Linked DNA regions of Homo sapiens. The protein of the gene in region 1 interacts with the protein of each later gene in a biochemical or structural test. Each region holds a gene or a part of one and is shown in the gene's direction. Other genes may lie near its edges.

Region 1 (5,352 bases):
TCTGAGCTGTGTCTGTTTCCTGTGTTTCAGAGCAGGGCTTGTCTCTGTAATATATGACTGTTAGTTCACTGTGGTTTTCTTTCCTTCTCTTCTCAGGAGGACAAGAAGACCTCATTCTTTCCTATGAGCCTGTTACAAGGCAGGAAAGTAAGTTTCCCAGCACGCTTTCATTCCTAATTTCTGGGCCATAAGAGGTGACATCATTGAAGGAGGGAAAGAGTGAAGGACTAAGGAGAATAAACTCGGCTTAATGCTCTGTTGTCTTGAGACCGTACCTTACTCTTACGCTGTCTCTCACTTTCTCTCTCTTTGACCCTATCACCAAACAGACAACTTCCTGCTGAGTATGGGCACTAATAGCACCTAAGAGAAGGATGCAGCCCTCCAGATGAGTGGTCCTCAATGGGAAGGAACACATTCAAATTACCTAAAGAGCACTAGCTACGAGACTGGTGAATAAATTCTCCTGAGAGACTGATGTCAGCTCAGTATTGAGAATGACTTTCTAGCAGATCTGCCTAAGATGTAGGCTATCTGTAAGCTGCTGCTTTTTCCTGGAGGCATTTATACAGAGGCTAATTGCTACTGACAAGGATACTGCAGAGAGAATTCAAGCATCAGATGGGGACTTGTACCCAATGAACTCTCAGGTTCCTTCTAATCCCAGATACAAGGAAATCTAGAAACTGTAGCAAAGTATAGAGAGTATTTTGATCTGGGGAAAAGAAATCATGAAAACATAAGATGTTATTACTACTAACAATTACTTTTTATAGTCATATCTAAACAATAGCCAAACAGCTGGTTTGGATTCTTTTTTCTCCCACTCAGTTGACTAAATTCAGTTGTTTTGACATTATGTAGGCAGAGCCAGAGAGTAAGCAAAACTCCTCCAAATGTTTCTTTTCATCAACAGATACTGCAATTGCCTTTCCCTGCTAGTAGATTCCAGAAAGTAGGCACTGCCAATCTCCTGAGTGTTAAACATCAATTTCCCTATGCAAGGCTGTATGAGTAATTTATCCAGTGAAGTAATGCCCTTAGCATCTCTTACTGTCTGGCAATTAAGAATCACCCTTGCAGGACAGTTTTGCAGTTGTTTCCAACTCTTTCTCTTTACCTACATCTTCCTTTCCCATTCTGCAGTAAACTACACCCGGCCGGTGATTATCCTGGGGCCCATGAAGGATCGGATCAATGACGACTTGATATCTGAATTCCCTGATAAATTTGGCTCCTGTGTGCCTCGTAAGTGTCATTTTTCTTTCCTCTAGGAAAAACAAAAAGAGCTTGGATTTCTTTATGAGATGGTAAAATGTAATTCCATCCTCCAGTAGTCTCTCCAGTAATTCAAATACCAACCATTTCCGATTAGCTGAGTGCCTTATTTAATTTATTTGCCTAACACTTTTCATTTATGCTGCCGTGTGTCATTCTGTATTTAATAAAAATAATAATGTTTTCTCTAAACTGATTGTAGCCCCTTAAAAGGCAGGATGAATTTTTGTGGCCCCCAACCATTTAAAACAGCATAGGATTTATGATAGGCATCAGTATGTTTTCATAGATTGATCAAAATGCCACTGAAACATTATTTTTTATAGGATGGAAGAGATCGGAAACAAAGCCATATATTAAAATCCTCTCAGGATGACTTAGGGCCATATGTCAATCCCAAAACCCAATAGGCTTTCCCATGTTGACAGTCCCAGGTTTAGGGAGGGTGAAGACAAGAAAATGTGTAACACTTCAATTTGACCTCTAGGCCATTACAGACTTTAAACTACTTTCTTCTCATTATAGATTATCATCAGGCTTCTGGTCCCTCTGATTGTAGCCTTATTAGATTCTAACTGCTCTGCCTCTTCCCCTCCCCACCCCTACCATACTTTCTCCACTCATTCACCCCGTCTACACCCCGACTCTGTCAAACAGAAATGCATGCAGACCTTCTACGTATGTAGACAGGTCCATCAGGAAATTTTAATTTATTAGATAATGGAGCTCTTACATCTGATACCAACAAATATTTCTCTTCCATTCTATGTGTTTTAAGCCTGATGCTTTCAAGTGTCTCTAACATTCCAGTACTGCAAATTTTACATGAGATACTTAAGAATAGCAGGAATTGTATGTGTCCAGTACATGGCCAAAAGACTAGGATGATTGCTGTATCTCATGAAACAATTCCCAGCAAGGGCTCTGGGAAGAGATCCTGCCATAGAACATATCCTGAGAAAGTCTTCAGACAGGAAGGAGCAAATGAAACTCCAGGTCGTTTACAGCAAGCTTCCAGCTTGCTCCTCCACTTTTGAGAGAAAGAAAACAGAAGGTACTTAAGCATTCTTTCTGCTTTCCCTTTCACCTTGCATATTCTCTCTTTTTTGAATTAATAGAACCATTTTGTGATAGTCAATAGATGTTCATTGTACAAAACTTCAAAAACACTAAAAAGAAAGTTAAACGAGAAAATTAGAAGTATACAAAATCCCACACAATACCCAGAGATAACATCATTGTTAATATTTTTGTACATTTCCATCTATTCTTTCTATGCATGCATTTTTTCTCTGTGATGATTTTTTTGCTTATTTAAAATTTTATATAACTATTTCAAATGATTATTATATCCCAATTAATCATTCTTTATGAACATTTTGGTTTTTCCCTATTTTTCACTATTATGAATTGTGACAAAAATATCATCGTAATTGTGTTATAATTATTACTTATAAAATAATATAATGAATATCTTTAAGGATAAATCTGTATCTGAAGTTTTGATCATTTTTAAAAACATATTTCTAGGAAAAAATAAGTGAGTCAAAGATTAAAAATATTTTAACAGCTTTTATTCATATTGCTAGATTGCTTTCCCCTTCTCTTCTTACCAAAAAATTTAGGTGAAATGGTTAGAGTTGCTGATTTTTAGTCCTATCTAACTGTGATTATCTTATTTTATATATGTTGAGAGTCTGAATTTTATGGTCCTTTATAGAATGTTAAGTTTTTGTTCTGACAGGTGATAATTTACTGACACAGCAGCTTCTTCCATTTGTGACATGGTTTTAGACTTTGTGAAGATGGGTGTAGAGTAAGTCTAGAGTAACCTTTTAAAATGTGGCCTTTCTGGGATCTCCATGGGTTCTGACTCAACTCCCGTGTCTTCTAGCACCATGTGATGTCTAAACTCTCCATTTGGAAATGGCCTCTAGGTAGAGAGGTGGGGTGAATGCTCTCTCATATGTTTCTCTTTTCTCAAAGATTACAGCCCTGTACTTCCTGTTGTCTGATATCTGAAAACAGTTGTTTCATATATTTTGTCCAGTTTTTTAGTTGCTTATGGTGGGAGGGTAAGACTAGTACCTGTTACTATGTCATATTTCTTCATACTACATATTTCTACATATCAATGTTGAGGATGTGGTGGAGAATATAGGTGTAAAGCAAGTTTATGGGTATAAATGCACCTTAATTTTATCATTTTTTGTTTTATAAAGATACTACGAGGCCAAAGCGAGACTACGAGGTGGATGGCAGAGACTATCACTTTGTCATTTCCAGAGAACAAATGGAGAAAGATATCCAAGAGCACAAGTTTATAGAAGCCGGCCAGTACAATGACAATTTATATGGAACCAGTGTGCAGTCTGTGAGATTTGTAGCAGAAAGAGTATGTTCACCAATCTTCTTACACCTCCCCTGAAGAAGGTTTCTAGGTTGCAAACTGCATTTTTTTTTTTTTTTGGTCATTACTCTTTCTTGATTGCAATTGTAAATTTTGATTTAATAATTTAAAACATCCAAGCAGAGAATCACCTTAGAGCAATGTCATTAATCTTTGTTCTAATTTCAATAAAGTATTCTCACTGACTTGGAAAAAGTAGGAAGAGGGCTTTGTCTTTGACTCACTATCTGAGGCCCCAATACACAACCTTGATTTTATTAAGGCAGGTTTACTACTTTAGTTGTAAACCAAGGGGATAGCATTCCTGAATTATTTTGTTAGAGGAAGTTATTTTTTTTCTCTCTCTCTGAAAACTTGACATCCTCATGGTAGAAGAGAAGATAGATGAGAAGGGCTGCCCAGCCTTTTGCTCGCAGAAGTTCTAGCTTAGAGGAGGTGTAGATGCTGCTATTATCTTTTTGCTGGTAACTTCAGGGGCATGGAAAAGAGAAGAATGTTCAAGAGAGGGTACCATAGGAAGGCACCTGGGTGTGGCTACACAATCTGCCTACAGAGGGATCCTATTTCCTGTGAACACAGAGAACCAGTATCATAGGAGAAGATATTTGTTGGGTTGATTTGATTTGCCATGACCTTTCTCAATGTACCGCTAAAGAATTAAGTAATTTTGATGTCTATCTAAGAATACACTAAGAAGTTGCATCTATTTTCCTCCCTCTCAAAAGTTCAGTTCTATCAACTAAATGAATACTGGTTCTAGTCAAACTGTCCTGGATAATTGCACCTATTTTCCTCTTTGTTCATGTTGTTAACTTGAAATGTTCTGACTGGTGAATAATCAACCAGCATTTATACATGTTATGTGGCTGCTGCACTTCACAGATAGAAAACTTGAAATCTATTACCTAAGTAATAACGGCTTGAACCATCTTAGTGGGTTTCTCAGATAAGAAGACTTCAAGTATTCACTGGACTGTATTCATTTTCATGTGAACATTATAGATGAGATTTTAGCCCTTATTATTGATTTAGTATTGTTCCTATCTGCATAAAGTGCCTTTTTTCTCTTCTTGCATAAAGTTATTCTAGCCTCAGGGTAATGAGGACATTTCTCTCCAGGAGGTAGAATATGATGTGGCAAATGTATCTGCATATCCAGAAATGCTTTATAAAGCAGCTGCTTGCTCTGAGCACTCATTGTGGTGGAAGCCAAGTTAAATGAGGTGTGCTATAATGTAATAGCATTTTTATTTGTTAACAAACAAGAAATTTACATACCTCATGCAAGCCTTTCTCTCTTGGCATTTAACCCGCATTTAATTTATATATATATATATATATATGTTTTAATTATATATTTTATATGTGTGTGTGTATATATATATATATATATATATATATATATATATATATACATATAGTTTTTATTTTTTTTGAGATGGCATTTCACTCTTATTGCCCAGGCTGGAATGCCATGGCACGGTCTCAGCTCACTGCAACCTCCACCTCCTGGGTTCAAGTGATTCTCCTGCCTCAGCCTCTCAAGTAGCTGGGATTACAGGTGCCCACCACCATGCCTGGTGAACTTTTTGGATTTTTAGCAGAGACAGGGTCTCACCATTTTGGTCAGGCTGGTCTCGAACTCCTGATCTCAGGTGATCCAC
Region 2 (3,500 bases), on another chromosome or scaffold:
GGGTTAAATCATGCAACTGTGTTTTCCTGTGGAGGGGAGTTGATTCCCCCACCTGCAAGTGGAAGCTTCCAGGGTAGGGGCCCTCTGTTTGTCCTCTACCTTGCATTCCCAGGTCAGCCACATCTGGTGGGTGCTGGTCCTGACATTGCCTTTGGAGAAAGTGGCCATGGTGGCCTGAGTGGAACAGCCCTCCCCTTAAACCCAGGTATGAGCTCTAGATTGGGAAGAGAATCCAGGAAGGGAGAGAGAAGGCTCGTGACTCTTGCCTATCTTGTGTTAGGTAGAAGAACTCTTGGAGTCAAACGACGAGGTCATTATTCTGAATTTCTTTTCTTTTTTTTTTTGAGACAAAGTTTCACTCTGTCCCCCAGGACAGAGTGCCATGGCATGATCTCTGCTCACTGCAACTTCCACCTCCCGGGTTCAAGCAATTCTCCTGCCTCAGCCTCCTGAGTAGCTGGGATTACAGGCACCCACTGCCACACCTGGCTGATTTTTGTATTTTTAGTAGAGACAGGGTTTCACCATGTTGGCCAGGCTGGTCTTGAACTCCTGACCTCAAGTGATCTGCCCGCCTCTGCCTCTCAAAGTGCTGGGATTACAGGCATGAGCCATGCGCCCAGCCCTAAATTTCTTATATAAAGAAATCTCTGATTCCCCTCCCCTAGGGGTATCATTGCCACTTGTTTTCCTTATAAGAAAAATGAGGCCTAGCAAAGCTATATGTCTAGATTTAACGTTATGCCATATTAAGAACCCAGCTCTAATTTCTGCTTAGAATCCATTGTAGTATTATAATATGACGGGATGCTTTGATGACTTTCTTACTGCTCAGCAGACATCCATATTATTCATCCTGTGAAGGAGGTGCTGCCATCCCTGTTTTACAGATGAGAGAACTGAGCCTCAAAGAGATTAGGTCCTATAACCAAGTACATACCTTGGGTAAATAGAAGCACCAGAGGTGAAACTCAGAGTTCCTGCCCTCCCCATACCACTGTTCTCTCAAAGGATTTGCAGAAGTACACAAAGCTACCAGGAAAAGAAAAGCACATTCTTTTTTCCCCCCTAAATCCATCAACTAGCACAGGTGCTATTAGCGAATTGTCTCCACCAAGTGGATGTTTTCGTTTTTTGCTGATTTGCAATTGAAAATAAAGTACACATAATTTGGAAAACACTTAACTTTTAAGGAACACCTTGAAGCTTTCCTCCAACAGAGTTCATTAATTTAAAGTCACTGTATTTTACTATTTGAAAATTTCACAGCTGAATGAGCTTGTGATTTCTGTTTATTGTTAACCCATACTCCTTTCAAAGTACCACTTGAACTTCAGCTGAGTATGATTTTCAGCCAGCTTGTTTTTAGTGTATGCCATCTATTTTTGCTAGTGGGAATGCTTGCCATTTCTCCCAGGAGAACTAACTATAAATTATACTTCAGAGAACTTCTAAATAAATATGTTCATGCCTCAGCACCTTAATGTGTTAATTAGCTATTAACAGTGTCAGTAAATTAGACCTGTCAAAAATAATGGCCTCCTTGACTAGGTTTTTACTAACACTTCTCCTGGTGGTGTTACTTGTAAGTTTTGCCCTCAGGAACTGTTAGAAAGCAAGGCTGTAGAGGTCTGCTTTGCAAAAGATGAACTCTGAAAGGGTTTGTTGGAATCATCTTGGCTCCAATCTGTGGGTGTTGTAAGGACTGGTAGCCTTAGAACACTGAGAATTTACAAATCTCAGGCTTACGAGCAACTCCATTACATTTATGGCTGGCAGGGGAGTTTATCCCCTGCTCTTTGCTCTCCATTTCAGAAAATCTGGCCAATGATCGTCCTTGTAAATTGCCTTCTTTGTGCATGCGCAAAATTAACAAGTTATGGCTGCTGTTCATGCTGGAGAAAGGTACCTCATTTTCCAAATCCGGGTTCTGGTTGGCACAAAAGAAGGACCTGACCAGATCAGAATCTGCCCTGCCCACTTCTCCTCTCATGCTTGTGTCAAGAGACCAAAGTGGGTCCTGCTGCCAATACCAGGGCTGGGACGGGGCATCTCAGAGTGAGAAACTCGGGAAAAATGTTATCAGTGGTGATTACATAAAGTTCAAAGACTACTGTTATTTTCCCTGTTGTATTAAGAATCGAATGGGTTGGCCTGGGATTCTACCCACTGTTTATCATCTGGGAAATGCATTCCGCGTTCTAAATGACCAGATTGTAGAATTTAACCTTTGGTAAATTCCCGACAACTTGCACTTTCTGTTAACAAAGCATGGAAGTAACTAAAGGCAATGCAAATTAGGGTACATGCTAATGTTTTCTGGGAGTATATATAAATGGATGAGTCCCCCATTTTTTTGTTTATTTAATGACTGCAGTCAGAGTCAGCTATAAAACCTCAAAACCATAGATTAAAATGAATTTCACAAAAAGAGCGAAACCACACTGTCCGAGTAGCCCTGGTGGCAAGTGATGAACCAGTTTGGGTTATCCTCACAGGCTCTCTTCAAACTTGCAAGGGACTGACAGGCTTCCCCTCTCTGTCTTGCCTCTACCTGCTGTCTGGGCTCTGGCTGGGGAGCTCGAGGACTGAAGTTTAAAATACAGCTGGTTCAGCATTTGGCAGCGGAGACCCAGATAGCCCTGCAGCACAATGATTGCTATGAAAGAAGCCTTCATTATCCTGTTTTGCTAAAAATAAGTTTGTTTTGCTGTTTTTGATAGCCACGGTGTTAGTGAAATTGTTTTCTGTATGGAAATATTTCACACTACACAATGGAAGGTCACTGTCCTTGCAGTCTGCATTTGTGGGAGTCTAAAGTGTTTACAATTAAGTAGAGCAGCTCCTGTTTGCTCTTCAAAAATGGGTCCAAGGAATAGGATTAAAACTTCAATTTCATTCTTTTCCAAAGAAACACAGACTGGGGCCAGGTGCAGTGGCTCATGCCTTTAAGCCCAGCATTTTGGGAGGCCAAGGCAAGAGGATCGCTTGAGGCCAGGAATTCGAGACTAATCTGGGCATTACAGCGAGACACTGTCTCTATAAAAATTTAAAAATTAGCCATAGGTGGGGGCAAGCGCCTATGGTTTCAGCTACTCAGAAGGCTAAGGCAGGAGGATCTCTTGAACCCAGGAATTTGAGGCTGCAGTGAGCTATGATTATGCCACTTCCCTCCAGCCTGGGTGGCAAAAGTGAGATCCTGTGTTAAAAAAAGAAAAGAAAAAAAGAAACTGAACTGGAGGCCACTAGTATGTACTCCCTAAATTCATGATTATCATGGTCTCGGAATTATTATTTATCATGGCTCTGCTTGAACACCAATAATAAATGACTTATCATATATTGACACATAAGAGGTTTTTTCCAGTTAAAAAGTTTAATTCCAAACGTAAACCTGATGTAGGTATATATGTTTATTTGCTTAGCAGATACTTACTTACACCCGGTATGTGCTACTATCACTATTTTAGATCGAAATATGGCATTGTTTCAGGCTGAAA
Region 3 (3,166 bases), on another chromosome or scaffold:
TTCCTGAATCAAGTGTGTGTAGTGGAACCGGTGGTCCAGCCAGGCACTCAGAAGCTCATTCTCTCACCACCATGCTTTCTGGTCTTGACTTGGAGCTAAATACCGTGTGCTGAAGGGAAAAAGTTGAAAAAGAGAGATGCTTACTTTTCTTGAAATACTGTTGACTATGAGAAGTAAACTTCATCTGTAAATTTTTAAGATGAAAATTTACATCAGGTTTTTTTTCCTTGGTCCACTGGTGGGTAGCCAGTAGATGTAGTTTAGGTGAAATCACTACTCTCTCTACCCCTTCTCCTTCCCTACCTGTTTATCTAATTGGTGTTCCTTCAAGGAAGCTTTCTTAGGGATGTGTTAGAGTCTAGAAATGTCATTAAGAATCTGTTCAGGTAGTGCCCACATGCTATTGTCCTGAGCTTTTAATATATTTGAAAACTTAGCAAGTCTTCCTCTTTCAATTGCTCTGGATTTTGAGCCATTGCTGGGATTCCTCCATCTTCTGCATTATTGCCACACTGGAATGTCATACATGGAAGCAAACGGGATTGAATGCTTGAGAGGTGACACCCTCGGCCTGTATACTACTAGCCTTTAGTTAACTTTGCAACAACTGGATTTTCTGGGGAGAAGCTGAACATAGTATCTTCCTAGTTAAGCTTTATTCCTTTAACCTTAATCAGGGTTTAGTAAGACTAAAACTCTTATCCATTTAATGCCCGTTCCTGTACAGAGCAATTCTATAGAATAAAGAAAGTGTTTTTTCTCTATTACAAGTGAGAGAGTTGTTACTAGCACTAGGTTTGTTAAGTCACACAACCGAAAATTGGAATTAACATCCTTAATCCAAAGAGGAACTGCATATATATATATATACACACACACACACACACATACACACACATACATATACATATATATGTGTGAGTGTATATTTTCATGTGTGTGTATAATTTTTCCCCTTCCTCTCTCCTTTTCCTTCATTCTTTTTTTTTCTTTCAGTAGTGTAATTCCAGAAAAAAAGAGAACAAGACATTTGAGAGAAGGTTCAGTGACTGTTAGAGTCGACTTGATCAGTAGCTTGTTCAACGTGAAAGTTAACTGTGTTATAGGTCTGGCTTCCGGCCACTGCTGTCACCTGTGCAGCAAACTGTTCCTATGAGCAATTCTTTCATTTAATCTTCTCTTTAAATGTAGATGTATAGCTTCTTGTTCGTGCTGATATCAACTTTAGCCAGTTCTGGAAGTTGTGACATAAGTATACGTAATGAACTAGTGGATTATACTTGGCTTTAAAACTGTTTTAATTCATTATTTCTATACAAAATAAGGCATTGCAAAGTTGAGATGAAAGTTTCTCTCTCCGTGCCTCTCTCTTCCATCTTCCCTTCATCTCTTGTCTTTCTCCCTTTTTTCAGAGGAAGCTCACCAGTGTGGGAAGGGGCTTCTCATCCACTGCCAGGCTGGGGTGTCCCGCTCCGCCACCATCGTCATCGCTTACTTGATGAAGCACACTCGGATGACCATGACTGATGCTTATAAATTTGTCAAAGGCAAACGACCAATTATCTCCCCAAACCTTAACTTCATGGGGCAGTTGCTAGAGTTCGAGGAAGACCTAAACAACGGTGTGACACCGAGAATCCTTACACCAAAGCTGATGGGCGTGGAGACGGTTGTGTGACAATGGTCTGGATGGAAAGGATTGCTGCTCTCCATTAGGAGACAATGAGGAAGGAGGATGGATTCTGGTTTTTTTTCTTTCTTTTTTTTTTTGTAGTTGGGAGTAAGTTTGTGAATGGAAACAAACTTGTTTAAACACTTTATTTTTAACAAGTGTAAGAAGACTATAACTTTTGATGCCATTGAGATTCACCTCCCACAAACTGACAAATTAAGGAGGTTAAAGAAGTAATTTTTTTAAGCCAACAATAAAAATATAATACAACTTGTTTCTCCCCCTTTTCCTTTTAAGCTATTTGTAGAGTTTATGACTAAATAGTCTGTGCAGGTTCATAGACCGAAGATACTACACACTTTAAACCAATTAAAAAGAACCAAAAGTAAATAGAAAAGACATTGAATCACCAAGGCCTGGGATCAACCTGGGCTGTCCACACAGAAAACAAAAACCCAACCAAACCAAGCCCTGTTGTGCTCACTGGTGCAAAGAGAAGATCAGGGCAGCTTAAGTGGTCTAAGAATCCTTCAGGCATTCTTTAAGGAGAAAAAGGATACCTTTGATTTTGTGTGTTTCATGCTCTGGATTTTTTTTTTTTTTCCTTCTCTGGGTTTAAGAGATTTTTTTTGAAATAGTGAGGAACTGACCATTATATGCCTTCACTGGCTTCTTGTGCAATAATATGATGTTTTAAGTGTGCAAACAAGTTAGAGCTGGCAGCTGAATGATAGACAAATAGTGCAAATTTGCCAGCTTGGAGATAGAAAGGAATTCAACAATATATCAAATACTTTCCTTCCCACCTTTTTCCTTTTTTTTTTTTTTTTCTGATTTGATTCTGGTTACAGTGCCATAAACCTTGTTACATATGTATATCAGAATGTAAGAAAAAAAAATTTATTTAAAAATATTTTTCGCAAAAAAAAAAAAAATCTTGGTGTGTTTCTGTTGATTGTGTAAAAATTTATTTTCATTATATAAATGAAACTGGTTTAGGATGTGTCTTTTTTTCCCCTCTCTTTTACCTTAACTCAGGTTCAAGCCTTTCTTAAGCTCTGGTAACTTGCATATACAACAAAGTTGAAATAAAACAGATTTTTATATAGGGAAAGAGAGATGAGGAAGGGAACATATCCAGTTTTCTCACTGTGAAACAGAGTTAGCAAGGAAGTGGAAGAGCTCCAGTATTGATCTGCCCAGTCACTGTCCCTTATATTCTCACAATGCTGTCATCCTCTCCTGCAAATATCATTCCTTTTGCATCGGGGAAGGCTTGCATTAAGGGGATCCCATCTGCCTTTGCGCCTTGGTGACCAAATCCCTGCCAGATTGATTGGTGAGAATTCAGTGATCTCCCTAGTGGCTATTTGATAAATACTTAGGACAATCTTCCATTTAGGGATCTTGATGTTCCTCCCCCCACCCCCCCACCCCATTGTCACTTGCTCACTTGGCATCTTTGGTGACATTAACCATGTAATGCGTTGCAGC
Region 4 (3,500 bases), on another chromosome or scaffold:
TCGGGGGGATAGAGTCTCACTGTGTCACCCAGGCTGGAGTGCAGTGGCATGATCTCAGCTCACTGCAGCCTCCGCCTCCTGGGTTCAAGCGATTCTCGTGCCTCAGTCTCCTGAGTATCTGGGATTACAGGTGCCCACCAGCACGCCCGGCTTCTTTTTGTATTTTTAGTAGAAATGGGGTTTCACCATGTTGGCCAGACTGGTCTCAAACTCCCAACATCATGTGATCCACCTGCCTCAGCCTCCCAAAGTGTTGGGATTTGACTCCACATCTTGATCACATCTTTCCCTTGTTTCTCTCTTCTGTCTCTAGCCCTTGTTCTCATCCGCTTCCCCACTTCAATTTTCCTCTTATTTTCTCTTTCCTAGCTTCCCCAGCTTCCCCTCTTCCATCTTCCTTACAACTATTCCTATGAGTAATGCCCCCTAGCATTGCCTCTTAGCCTGACATTCTTGAAACCATACAGTTGAAACCCTGTTAGAACATTACCACACTGTACTGTTTTCCCCGGCATTTGCTTACCACTCCGTAAGCTGTTGGTGCAGTTTCTGCACATCTAAGATTGTTCTCCACCAGTAACTTGTATTAAGAGCAATTATGATCATCACTATTGTGCTCTCACCGAGTGCCTATCACTGCTCTAAGCACTTTACATGGATGAGCCTACATAATCCTTGCTTGAAGGAGATATAATTTTCCAGATGAGGAAACTTAGGAAGATAAAATAGCTTGTCCACAACCACAGAGTGGCAGAGCCAGAATTCAAATGCAGGCAGCCTTGCCCCAGATCCTACACTCTGAGCAGATGGGACCCTAAGTTAGTTGCTCGTAATCCTGATTCAGGTGTCCTGGCATGCCATGAGTCACACTCACACAGGCTGTTCTCTGCTGTGATAAGAAATTGAAATTTGGACCCACTATTTGCTTCAATGACATTTAGAATTGATAACTCTTTTTATTTTCAACTTAAATGGTAGTATCTCAGTAGGACACTCACAGCTTTAAATCCCATCAAGATTTTAACTCATCACCATTCCGAAGAGATCTTACTTAAATGATTTTTTTTGTGTGTGTTGTCTGTCAGGAATATAAATTGAAGATATAAAAGCCAGCACCCGCAATAATTCTGCAACTGGTAGGAGGCAACCCAGGACCTCTTGGTGACCTTAATAAGGGTCTTCTTTGGCTTATCCAGGATGTGACCTTCTGCAGCCTCCAGTATTAGACATTCCAGGGCATTTTCTGCCTTTTAAAAAGCATCTGATTCTCATTCTGGTGTTTAATCAGAGAGAGACCGTTGGCCTCTTTCCATTCCTCATGGGAGAGCTCCATTTTTGTGCTCACATTTTTCATCTTTGGTGATACTCAGGGTTGATGTTTTAGTGGGCTAGACTTTCTGCATTGGATTAAAACCTTTCACATGAGCTTGGTGAATTCTCCAGTGACCAAGTCCCCTGGGGGCCTCCAACCCTATAGATTCCAGCATGATAAGAGTGGAAAGGAGTCCGGAACATCATGCCTGGGGTATAGTGAGCACTCACACCATGGATTTATTTTTTCATTTTCCAAGCCCCCAACCATGTAAGGTATTTTATAAACATTATTTTATTTGATTCTCCCAACAATTCTATACCACTGGAATTATGTCCGTCTTCATTTTTCTAGATGAAGAGACAGAGGCTCAGAGACTAAGCTTCCCAGTGCTCAGGGTTACATGGTGAAGGAGGCAGAGTTTGCATGTACACCTGCTGAGCCACAGGGACCATGCCTATGTGTTTTATTTGTGTGCTATCTGCTCCCTGAGATGAATGAGGTTAGATATTTTCTTAGGAGAAGAAATACTTGGAAGGCACAAATGGGGTATGACAAACTATGTTCAGCTTCTCTGTGGCTAGCAGACCTGAGCTAGCCCCCTCCCCCTCTGTATTTGAATATAGTCCCATCTGTTACCTACCTATGTAAGGCTTCCAGGTAAGGAGGATGTAAGGCTGTTGGCTGGCAGGAGGCAGAACACAGTAGATCCACAGACTAGTAAAGGCAATGCCTGTCTCTGACTTCCGATCTTAGGGCTGTACCTCCCTCATTTGTGTCCAAAGACCCAACATCTTTAGGGTTCTCCCCCTGCCTCCTCCCCATCTAACCCTGCCCACTGACAACTCCAGTGCCTTCTTCTCAAGTTCTTCTGTAATTCTTAATTTAATAATCAAACTATGCTGATAAACTATGCTAATTGCCTAGATCTGTGGTTCTGCAACTTTTATGGACATCAGAATCACCTGGAGGCTTGGTAAACACAGATCATTGGACCTCACCCCAGAGTTCTGATTCAGGAGGTGTTGCCAGTGCCGCCGGTCCAGGGACCACACTGTGGGAACCACTGAATCAGGGAGCCTGGTCCCAGTTATATGTGTGTTGATGGTGTCTGACCAGTTGGGTATCTGATAATTCAGCCTTACTGGGAAAGATGCCATGGGAAGATAGGAAGGCATTTGAGATAGGAGACTCAGGCTTTTGTCCCTTCATCATAGCAGTAGATAATTATCTTTTACGTTGACGTGCAGTGGCTTTAGACAGCTTCTCATGGTTGTGAGCCTCTGCCAGCTCTTAAATCTTTGAGCCTGTTTTCCTCTGTGGATGAAATGGCCTTTCCTTCTAATTATTTTTGATTCCCATATCAGGTTTCTCAAGCTAAGATTGCATTGGAAGCACCTGGAGGTCTTGTTAAAGTGAGGATTCTGAGTTATTAAGTCTGAGGTGGGACCCAAGGTTCTGCATGTCTAATGAGCTCCCAGGTGATATAGATGCTGCCGGTCCATGGACCAGCAATTCTGAGTTACAACTGTATACAGCAGTGGTGCTTGCCCCTGCTGCCCAGTAGAATCACCCAAGGAGCTTTTAAAAACGAATACTTGAGCCACATTCCTTGGAGATTCTAGTTTAATTCTGGGGATTAGAATTTTTAACTCCCCCATTCCCCAACCCCCATGTGATTCCAATGTACAGTCAGAGTTGGAAGCCATTGGCCTTTACCCACAAAAAGGGATAACACCTTCTGGGAGCTCAGGTGCGTGTGTGGCACCATAGACCAGGTTGGGCTGGTCGCTTCCATGCAGGGAGGGTGCACCATTACTCCTGGGGAGCTGCAAAGGTCACCTGGGAATCTTGTTAAATTACAGATTCTGCTTTGGCAGGTTTGGGGTGGGACCTGGGTTTCTGCATTTCTAATAGATATCTTAGTGTTGCTGATGCTGCCAGTCCAGGCTGGTGCTAAGTCCCAAGACCCACCCACAAGGGCCCACACGATGCCCATTATCTCTGCCGGTGGTGGCAGCGGGTAGCTTTTCTCATGTCGAGTGTTAGAGGCTTTTGGCTTCCACCATCTGTCTCCTTAAACGCCATTCTGACGTCTCTTTTATTCAGCTTGGTATTGACACAAGACAGCGGGCAATATAGGTCTGTTCTCTTTTTGTAATATTTTCTTCCTTCTCTCTTCACAGTA

Evidence for each region.
Region 2: the proteins of DLG2 (region 1) and CLDN10 interact in a test that uses a peptide from one of them, tested with the Homo sapiens proteins (one large-scale study listed by IntAct).
Region 3: the proteins of DLG2 (region 1) and DUSP10 interact in a test that uses a peptide from one of them, tested with the Homo sapiens proteins (one large-scale study listed by IntAct).
Region 4: the proteins of DLG2 (region 1) and PRKCA interact in a test that uses a peptide from one of them, tested with the Homo sapiens proteins (one large-scale study listed by IntAct).

Annotation. Positions count from the first base shown.
Region 1 is NC_000011.10:83,467,522-83,472,873, reverse strand, and holds part of DLG2 (disks large homolog 2), read left to right. Parts: intron 1-96; coding exon 97-147; intron 148-1,146; coding exon 1,147-1,248; intron 1,249-3,500; coding exon 3,501-3,673; intron 3,674-5,352. UniProt on the Homo sapiens protein: Required for perception of chronic pain through NMDA receptor signaling. Regulates surface expression of NMDA receptors in dorsal horn neurons of the spinal cord.
Region 2 is NC_000013.11:95,555,720-95,559,219, forward strand, and holds part of CLDN10 (claudin-10), read left to right. Parts: exon of another isoform or gene 1-205; intron 206-1,779; exon of another isoform or gene 1,780-1,859; coding exon of another isoform or gene 1,860-1,905; intron 1,906-3,500. UniProt on the Homo sapiens protein: Forms paracellular channels: polymerizes in tight junction strands with cation- and anion-selective channels through the strands, conveying epithelial permeability in a process known as paracellular tight junction permeability.
Region 3 is NC_000001.11:221,700,924-221,704,089, reverse strand, and holds the end of DUSP10 (dual specificity protein phosphatase 10), read left to right. Parts: intron 1-1,412; coding exon 1,413-1,678; 3' UTR 1,679-2,666; downstream 2,667-3,166. UniProt on the Homo sapiens protein: Protein phosphatase involved in the inactivation of MAP kinases. Has a specificity for the MAPK11/MAPK12/MAPK13/MAPK14 subfamily. It preferably dephosphorylates p38.
Region 4 is NC_000017.11:66,683,613-66,687,112, forward strand, and holds part of PRKCA (protein kinase C alpha type), read left to right. Parts: intron 1-3,498; coding exon 3,499-3,500. UniProt on the Homo sapiens protein: Calcium-activated, phospholipid- and diacylglycerol (DAG)-dependent serine/threonine-protein kinase that is involved in positive and negative regulation of cell proliferation, apoptosis, differentiation, migration and adhesion, tumorigenesis, cardiac hypertrophy, angiogenesis, platelet function and inflammation, by directly phosphorylating targets such as RAF1, BCL2, CSPG4, TNNT2/CTNT, or activating signaling cascade involving MAPK1/3 (ERK1/2) and RAP1GAP.